3 separate regions of the Homo sapiens genome follow, and regions 1 and 2 are each reported to be linked to region 3. The links are microRNA targets in miRTarBase. Many come from high-throughput screens and were not tested one by one. Region 3 holds a microRNA gene; each other region holds the end of a gene's coding sequence.
The links. The annotated mature microRNA hsa-miR-3646 reads AAAAUGAAAUGAGCCCAGCCCA and lies in region 3 at 1,773-1,794, shown strand. An mRNA with a match to its seed (bases 2 to 7 or 8) in the 3' UTR can be bound and repressed. Matches are read on the target gene's strand: a 7mer-m8 pairs with bases 2 to 8, a 7mer-A1 pairs with bases 2 to 7 and ends in A, and an 8mer does both.

Region 1 (3,256 bases), not on the chromosome of region 3:
CTTTGGCTAGAAAGTTGAATATTAAACCTACTTCCTCCCTGCATTTTGTACACTAATGAATATTCCCGTAGCATACGGCAGGGACAGTGGATGAATTTCAGGGAAGCCCATGAGCTCTGACGACCTCAAAGACGCACCAGATCTATATGCTGTCCACATGAGACATATTCTAACAGTGCCCACCTTGGGGCTTAGAGATAAAAGATAAATACTGATGTTGTTCATCACGCAATAAACCAGTAACTGAGACCACTTGCTAAAACATCCCTAACAGCAGAATATCCCAAGGATGGAAAAACCTCCAAGGAAAGGAAACAAGTATCTTTTTGCTTATTGATGAGCTTCTTATAATAAGGGTTATAAGCTCTGTTCACTGAAAATACATGTAATACTAATGGGTTTCTTTCCAGGACATACAACAAAACTCCAGAATCTACAAAGATCAGCAGATTATACTCCTTCACTGAGCCTTCAGACCTTGAAGTAGAAGACACAGGGGAAGCCCTCCATCCCCAGATATTCCGAGTCTAACTAGAGTACAGCCACCACAACACCTGGCCAGGTTGAAACAGAGGATTCCTATTCCGAAGAACTTAATGGGGAATATATACCTGTTGGCATGTGGTGATGGGATGTCACAAAGGCATACTTTTTCTGGTTGATTTGATGTCACTCCATCTTTTTAGCTCACGGGGGACAAAAGCAGCAATGAAGAAAGGCATATGGAACTCTCACAGCAGTCAATTCTAAGAAAAAAAACTGCAATTAAATTTTCCTTTCTCCTAACATCTAGTTTTTCTTGACAACCTTTTTTCCTTTTTTTTTTTTTTTTTTGGAGGCAGGGTCTCTCCGTAGCCCAGCCTGGACTACAGTGGCAAGATCACGGCTCACTGCAGTCTCGAATTCTTAGAATCAGGTGATCCTCCTGCCTCAGCCTCCCGAGCAGCTGGGACTACCAGGGCATACCACCACGCCTGGCTAATTTTTGTACTTTTTGTAGAGACGGGGTTTCATCATGTTGCTCAGGCTGGTCTCGAACTCCTTAGCTCAAGCAATCTGCCCGCCTTGGCCTTTCAAAGTGCTGGGATTACAGGTGTGAACCACCGTGCCTGGCTGACTACAGTTTTTTAATTGCACGTTTGTTCTTTGAACTGACCACTGTGGGCATTCCATGCCTTCCTCCACTGCCGCCTTTTTCCCAAGCTGAAAAGACAAGGAAGATGTGGCATCAAATTAACTAGAAAGAGCACGCCTGTGACTTCCCATCACCACGTAACAACAGGTGCATATCAAAGCTGTACTCAAGAAAAGGTAGACATAGAATGATAAATCCCCCAAAATGCAGTAAGAGGAAAAAAGTACAAAACATGATTTATTGTGTACCATCCTTGGAAATTCAGAAGGACACTGACCAATGAAGCCATAGGAAGAAACTAAGAACTGGGCTTCAAAGTGAAGATAACTGACCAGCGAGTGGATTTTATGAAGAAAAGGAAAGAAGCACAGGGCTCTGCCAATGACAATTCTACCATCGTTCATCAAGTGGCCCCAAGTTTGGACTATGGGGTCCCGAGTGGGATTAATTCTGATCTTGCAGACCAAAGCCTGAAGATGATATCAGCACAGCGGGGGTCACATTTGATGTGTTTCCTGGCCAGGACCCCTGTTATGTAGCTAAATGCCTTACAGCTCCCATAAATCAGCTTCCCCATCTGTTTCCTTGATGGCCTTTCCAATGACTTAGTGACCTCAACTTTTAGGTCTCTGTCCAGCACACACATCTTATTTAAATAAAAAACAATGATCATCAAGGCCCTGCCTGAAAAACACAATCCTCAAAGGCCCTGCCCAACTCCTTTCTCTTTCTAGGTCTGCTATCCTCTCTCAATCAGGGTAGAGCCTTAACTGCACAGATGGTCTGGTCCAGAGCCTCAATGCCACCAGACAGGGTCCTACTGAGCAAACAGGAGAGGTAGCAACAAATACCCAAGGTACAGTCGCCAGCAGGGAAACACAAGCTCCAGAGCCCAGGATAAGGGGTGGTCAAGAAAAGCACAACACAGAGCTTGTCTTTCGGCCCCAAAGATGGCAATTACTGCATTGTAAAGGCAGCACTGTCTTTAGCTATTCTGTCTTTAACTCAAGCTTGGGGGGGAAGTTGGGGTGGGGCGTGGGGGAGAGGAGACTACTGAGGATGAGGGGTGGAAATGAAGACGAGAGGAAACTGTCTATCAAGGCTCATGAGCCCCAAAATATAAGAGAATCGTGTTTGTTCCTTCAGACCCTTTTCTTTATATTTCAGGATGAATTCATTTTCTTACCGTCTTTGCTTTGGATATAAGCAATGAATGATGAATGAATCAAGCTGATAAATGAATTAAGCTGATGAATTTCAGGGTTGGTTACAAATCTGGCTGCAACTTCACAAGAGATGTGCTCCCTCATGCCTCTGTCCTCAAAATGATCCAGCAGGCAACCTTACCTGCTGACATATATTACAATACAGATCAGTCAAGATGTGGTTCAAATGAAAAGTACTATATTACTAGGGAAACTGCATTATAATAATTCACAAAAGTTATTCCAAAGGGGAAAAAAATAAATTATCTCATATAAAATAATACATGGTATGTGTGAATAATCTTGGCTACTGTCTTCAGAGAGCCTGTTTGCTGCCAGCCACCTGCACCCCTGTGGGGGGAGCAGATGTTGTCTGGAGGTGACTCTCCTCCAGCGCGATGGAGCTGGGTCCCTCCTCCAGGAGCTGGATTGGGGTGATTAAATGAGTCTGGAGTTTTGGAGGAACTGGATGAGGACTTGGTAGACAAACTTGTACTGAGCGATAGTCTGGATCATGAACATCCTCTGCTCCCTGAGGAGCCTCAGCATCATGGGCACTTCCACCTTCTGCAAGAAAAGAGAGAAAGCACAAGGTCCTGAGACAGGAGGCTTCCCTTTGAGCATTCCTCATTCCCTCATTCAGGAAGCACTCACCCACTGCCCATGTCCAGGTACAAGAGAAGGCAAGGGACTCTGCCCTGGCTGGGTTTTATGCATCAAACAGTTTATATCAGCAACTGGAGAACCTGGTCATCATGTGTCACTGGTGGGATATTTTATTTTTATTTAATTTCAAATTTTCTGAGAGGGTCTTGCTGTGTCACCCAGGCTGGAGTACAGTGGCACAGTCATAGTTCACTGCAGCCTTCAACTCCTGGGCTCAAGCAGTCCTCCTACCTGAGTCTCCCAAAGTGCT
Region 2 (3,256 bases), not on the chromosome of region 3:
GCCTATTTGTTTCTAGGATAAAGACTAGGGTTCACCATGCCATCTGTAATTGTGTTCCTAATTAGCAGCCTCATGCATAGGCCAAACTTTCTTTTTTTTTTTTTTTTTTTTTTTTGAGACAGAGTCTCGCTCTGTCACCCAGGCTGGAGTGCAGTGGTGCGATCTCGGCTCACTGCAACCTCCACCTCCCGGGTTCAAGTGATTCTCCTGCCTCAGCCTCCCAAGTAGCTGGGACTACAGGCGCGTGCCACCACGCCCAGCTAACTTTTTGTGTTTTTAGTAGAGACAGGGTTTCACCGTGTTAGCCAGGATGGTCTCGATCTCCTGACCTCGTGATCCACCTGCCTCAGCCTCCCAAAGTACTGGGATTACAGACATGAGCCACCGCCCCTGGCCCAGTCTTCATATTTAACTGCACCTTCCTTCCTCTAGGCTTCCATATATTATTCATTCCCCTCAGCTAGGAATGCTTCCCCTGGGTCACCCAGGTCTACCCAATTCTTAGTTATCCTTCAAAACTTAGCTGAAATACCACTTCTCTGGGGGACTCTTCCTTGCCCTGCTCCCTATGTTCCCCTCCCAAAAGTACCTTTTACCTGTTACAATACCTTACAAATCTCCTTCAGCCCTTATCAAAATAGTAATATTTGTGCAATGAGGTGCCTGTCTCCTTAGCTATACCATGAAATCTATGAGGACACAGTCTGTCTTTACCTAGCACAGGTTTTTGCATGATTTATACATTCAGTAACTGTCTGTTGAATGAACGAACACTGAATGAATAGGATCAATATTTAGATTTCCCCAGGTAATCAAAGAAAACATTTAGCTAAGCCCTGGGTTGTATGCTGTACAAAGAAGAAACTGTATAGGTTACAAGACAATCTTGAGAAAGAAAGACCTCTCCAAAAAAGTGATGATATAATTTTAAAAATTTTCAAACTATGTCCTATAAAAACGAAGGGTAATTTTTTTTCACTCTTTCTAGTGTGGGGGTGGGGAGCATGGAAAAAGGCAAATAAGCACAGGTCAGTGGTATATTTGTTGTTTTACTGTTAATTTGACACATCTGAACCAAAGCATTCACAATACTTGATATACTTTGAAGAGAGTCATATACTATAGTCTTAAACATAACCACGGAACGAGCAGAACAATTAAAACTACATAAGGCCTTAAAATATATCCACAGTGTGTATTATTTCCATATTCATTCATTTACAAATTAGACTACATACCATTAATTTTATTTTTATTTTTCATTGTTTTATTCAGACAGGGTTCATTCAAGGAAAGGCAACTTAGTTTTTGTATGTGTGAGCTTTATTTTTTTACTATATTGGTTAATATAAAAGTTATGAATTAAACGTATTCTTATCTCCTATACCCAGGAGTGAATCCATGAAATTCTCAGATAGTAATCCAAAACAATAGGTCCTATTTTTAAAAATAGCTAAAGTGGGCCAGGCGCAGTGGCTCATGCCTGTAATTCCGACACTTTGGGAGGCCAAGGGCAGATCATGAGGTCAGGAGTTCAAGACCAGCCTGATCAACATGGCAAAACCCTGTCTCTACTAAAAATACAAAAATTAGCCAGGCGTGGTGGCAAGCATCTGTAATACCAGCTACTCAGGAGGCTGAGGCAGGAGAATCACTTGATCCCGGGAGGCAGAGGTTGCAGTGAATCAAGATCGCGCCACTGCACTCCAGCCTCAGTGACACAGCAAGACTCCATCTCAAAAAATGAAAAAAATAGCCAAAGTGAAAAGGGATCTGATAGCCAGTCTGTTAGTGGTCTTTAAGATCAACTCATGGACTTTCGGGATTTCATACAATGAAGACTACTGCAATTCTATGAAGACTATGAGATCAGTCAAAATTTAAAACATCGTATACAAAATCATTCTTGAAATCTCTAAATGCCTTTTAAGTAACCAGCATGAAAATTTTAAGTACTTGCCTCACAGTACCAAACTTAGAAGTCAAAACTAGTTAAAATTCAGTGCTATCATGACTTCTCATTTACAAGGTAACTCATTGGTAAATTAATAGATGGCATAAAAATTAAGATTTACATCTTTTTTAAAGGATAAATGTATGTAATCAGAGTATACAGAAAATTCAATGTATTTTACAATAAAATAACTTTAAACCTCTATCCCTGTACAACAGGGTTTAGGTTAATTCTAGTGAACTTGCATGGTTTTAAATCTCTTTTACAGTTCATTCCATTATGAGTACTTAAATTGCTTTAGATACATAGCTTTTTTCAAAATATTACAGTTGTATTCCAGGATAAGATTTAATATATTGAGATGTTTTAAAAATATTTATAAATTTGTTTCTAGTATGCAAAAGCATTTGGCAATACTTTTACAGCATTTGATTTTATAGAATTAAAATCTCATACAGTACTCATCTTGATGTTAAAAAAAAATTCACAGAAAAAATATAAATTACACAGCCTGACTGCACGGTACTGTTATTTCCAGTTTTTAGTTCTGGTAATTAAAACCTTCATTAAGTCTGTTAACAAATCATTACCTGTACATTTATGAAGGCAACTGACATGATTTGCAAACAAAACCTTCAGGTTTTATGTTATTTACCAAAGAGTGCAGTTCAGCAAGAAAGGAAAACCCAGTAGCAAATTTACAGAATATTTTACAAATTTACCAGTTCCTGTGACACAAACTGTTTCAACCTTTCAAGATACTGTCCATAAAGTTCCACATCATTGTGACCTGCTCCTTCAACCCAGAGAGGCTCCACAGGTCTTTGGCAACGTTCAAACAATGCGAGGCCATGTGAAAAGTCAATGACTTCATCTTCAGTCCCATGAATTATTAATACTGGAGAGGTTATCTTAGAGATTTTGTCAATGCTGCAGGGAAAAAGGAAGGGGGAAAAATGCAATAAATTAACTATGTAAAGGAACATATTCTTGTGCTATATCAGACAGATAATTCAAATATGAGAATTGTATGAATCAGTTCAGAAGGTAAGAATGTCTCCTGAATTTCCAGTAAGATTCAAAAATTGCCTTTTACATACTCCCTACCTTAAGATTATCTGAGGAAGTTATTTTCATGCACTTGTTTTGATGGTTTTGCTGGAATCACTCAATGCTCTTGTCACTCTACTGTACCTTTCTACAATGTTGACTTTTGGCACAGAGAAACTTAGGTGTCCAGAAGAAGAGAAAATTTAAGAACCATTTCAAGTATGCGCTAATTTCACTTTCTGCACTCACTAT
Region 3 (3,256 bases):
GAACCACATTTACTGATCATCAAGCTACTGGCTGCCGTTTATTGAGCTCTTATCATATGCCAGGCACAATACTAAGTCTTTGTGTGTATTTACCCATCCCCTTGAGCCCATTGTTGTTTTTCCCATTCCATGGGGCCTCTCCTGAAGCCTCAGTAGATGAGCCCGTCTTCCAGTCTGGTGCTGTTTTTGGGACAAATAGGAGATTGACCCCAGGCCGTTCCACCTACCCCAGGGGCTTCCACCAACCCCAAAGTCTTCCCAAGGCCTTGGAGAGCCCTCTTTCGAAAGCATCTCCTGTTCTGGGTAATGACAATAATAAAATCATAGCAGCTGTCAATTGCGAGCACTTGTCATGTACAAAGACTGTGCCCCATCGGCGCATGACTTCATTTCACCTGTCAACACCCCTGTGAGATGGTTACTGTTGTTATTCCCATTTTATAGAGGAGGAAGCTGTGGCTTGGAGGGCTAGGCATTTGCCCAAGGTCAACCAGCTTGAATCACTGGCAGAGCCAGGGTTAACATTCAGGGCCCCACCCATCACCACGGTGTGGCACTGCCTCTACTTCCTATCCCCCTCCAGAGAGAGGCTTATGTGAACCGAGTATTAACTCTGAGCCATAACCAGGAGCCTGCTATGGGTTCTGAGCTTTTATAGGATGTGGTGGAAATAGCAGGGCTCTGGTACTCCAGAGGTCAAGGTTCCCAACTCAGCTCTAACACCAACCAGCAGAGCGACCCAGGACCACATGTTGCCTCTCTGAGCCTCAGTTTTCCCATGTTTAGCAGGACAGGACTGGGCTCTTAGAGAGTTCATAGCACCTTTCCAGCTCCTGGTGGGTTCAAGAGAGAACTCCCGGGATGAAGAGATGAGAGCACTGAGGTTGGGGGGTCAACTGGATAGCCAGGGCCCTAGTTCTGTCCTAAGAGGAGGAAGTTGTGTCTTCTCCATCCAACCATCCAAAGCCCTCCCCAGATTTAGCCGGCAGTGCGTGGTGGACAAAGACAAGAGGAACCAGTGCCGCTACTGCAGGCTCAAGAAATGCTTCCGGGCTGGCATGAAGAAGGAAGGTGAGCCTCGGCCCTCCCCGCCCCACCACCACTGCCCCACCTGCACCCACAGCTCCCCGACAGTCATTTACAACTGTAGCCACACTTTATGACTCAGTGGCAGGCCCCAGGGTGACTGGCTAATGGCTGAGAAGAGGGAGGGCCTGGAAATCTGACCATAGGGAGCGGCTGGGCTTGGTCTTGAGAAAGATTCAGAGAGATAAGCTCCCACTCTTGGCTCCTCAGGCTCCCAGCAACCACCACCCCTGCCTGCCTGTCTGCGCCACCACAAAGCAGCCACGTTGTGTGTGTGTGTGTGTGTGTGTGTGTGTGTGTGTTTAATATAATATTTCGAACGTTAGGACAAGCATAGAGAATGATATTGCAAACATCTGAGTACTCACTATCCCAACTTTACAAAAGGGACAGCCAGAGGAGCCCGATGCCTGAGCTTCCGGTCCCAGGGACAAATGCCCCAGTTCCCTTAGTATTCATTCGTGGGTATCACGTGATCTCCAAAGTCTTCACATTCTAGAAAATGGGAACAAGACCCCAGACCCATCCTGGACAAAGGAGGAGAAGACCAGAGCACAACATTTATTAAGGTCTTGCCAGGCTTCCTGCTACCAGCAGGTATCAGTCACTGGGCTGTGCTTTTTCCACACTTCAGTAGGTTGGGTTCATTTCATTTTCATGACAACCCTATATGGGAAAATGTTGTGAAAATGAAATGAGCCCAGCCCATTGAACCTATTACAATTCCTCCCTTTTTGTGGATGAAGGAACTGAGGCCCACAATGGTTAAGCAACTTGCCTAGGGCCCCACAACTGATCCTTGGAAGATCTGAAGTCCCAGAGCTTCTGCTATTTGGACCACACTTCAGCACTGTCTATTATTTTATGCTCTCCAGATACCAGGGACATTTAAAATTGTTTTCAGCCCAAGCAAGGGAAGCAAAAATCTTTTAACTGCTTTAAAGTAACTTGAGGCCAGGCGCAGTGAATCAGGCCTGTAATCCCAGCACTTTGGGAGGCCGAGGCAGGCAAATCATTTGAGGTCAAGAGTTCGAGACCATCCTGACCAACATGGTAAAACCCCGTCTCTACTAAAAATACAAAAAAATTAGCTGGGCGTGGTGGTGCATGCCTGTAGTCCTAGCTACTCGGAAGGCTGAGGCAGGAGAATTGCTTGAACCCAAGAGGAGGCGGTTGCAGTGAGCTGAGATCATGCCACTGCACTCCAGACTGGGCAAGACAGCGAGACTCTCTCAAAAAAAATAAAAAAGTAACGAGTTCATTTTCGAATCTCTTCATTTCCTGCTCCTCTAAACTCAACCTTTCCCAGCTCTGCGACTAGTCCCAGACCTTCCCTTCTAGCCCACAGTTGTGCCGTACCAGCCAAACCTTGGTCTAGTCCTGCTAGTTCGGTACAAACACCCCTCACCCCCATCACCCCAGCACACCCCAGAAGCAGGAACGTAGGACCCAGCTTGCTCCAGGGCCCACTGAGAAGGAGGGGAGGGGAGGCTTTGGTAGACTCTCTTTCCCCTGTATCTGCTCCTGGCCCCCTGTTTTCTCTGCCCCCTCCCTTGGAAATATCTTCTATGTCTCATCCTTATGGGACCTTAGTCTGGGCTCATGAGCTGTCTTGGAAAATCTGGGCTTGCTGATCCCGATGCAGGAGTGGGTGGTCCCCAAGGCCTGCTCTGAACGCTGCAATTCTAACATCTAGATATCAGTGGTTCTCCAAGGGCAAGAGGGGCTTTTTAAGCTGCAAATACTCCCTCCTCTCCCAAACCCAGTTTTCAATGGGGTTAAGCCTGTCTCATCCACTTCAACTTCCATTTTGTGGACTGGGAAAGATTATGAATGGGAACCTGATGCATGTGTGAACAGTTGGAGGCAAGAAAAAGATTGAGAACTACAGTCTAAGGTTCCAACATTTCTGTGGTTGTATTAGTCAGTGATTCCATTATCCCAAAAGCCTAAGATTTTAGGCACTATGATTCCTCATAGGTGTCATCCAGAGGGCACTGTGTTTGAGAGAACAGCTCTCTCACAGTGAAAGTTCAGGTCTGTGACAGGCAGATGGGAGAGGGGTTGGCAGCCCTCCTGAGTGGATGGCTACCCACCTCCACTGCGTGTGGCCTGGTCCTGCGTGTGGTCAGTTGTTATAAATGTCTTTTATTAGACATCCAGAGTCATT

Region 1: miRTarBase lists PTPN14 as a target of hsa-miR-3646. Seed matches in the 3' UTR shown: 7mer-m8 at 2,526-2,532, 8mer at 2,370-2,377 and 7mer-m8 at 2,206-2,212.
Region 2: the mRNA of ABHD17B is a reported target of hsa-miR-3646. Seed matches in the 3' UTR shown: 7mer-m8 at 1,742-1,748.

What each region holds. Positions count from the first base shown.
Region 1 is chr1:214,355,144-214,358,399 of GRCh38, forward strand. It overlaps PTPN14 (protein tyrosine phosphatase non-receptor type 14), which reads right to left. Exons shown (of 19, transcript NM_005401.5): 19 at 1-2,907. The coding sequence ends at 2,779. Among named protein-coding and RNA genes, the nearest start is that of SMYD2, 76 kb to the left of the region's middle.
Region 2 is chr9:71,864,123-71,867,378 of GRCh38, forward strand. It overlaps ABHD17B (abhydrolase domain containing 17B, depalmitoylase), which reads right to left. Exons shown (of 4, transcript NM_001025780.3): 4 at 1,030-2,884. The coding sequence ends at 2,665. Among named protein-coding and RNA genes, the nearest start is that of ABHD17B, 45 kb to the right of the region's middle.
Region 3 is chr20:44,406,405-44,409,660 of GRCh38, forward strand. MIR3646 (microRNA 3646) reads left to right here and starts at 1,716; the gene lies at 1,716-1,799. It overlaps HNF4A (hepatocyte nuclear factor 4 alpha), which reads left to right. Exons shown (of 10, transcript NM_175914.5): 3 at 977-1,071.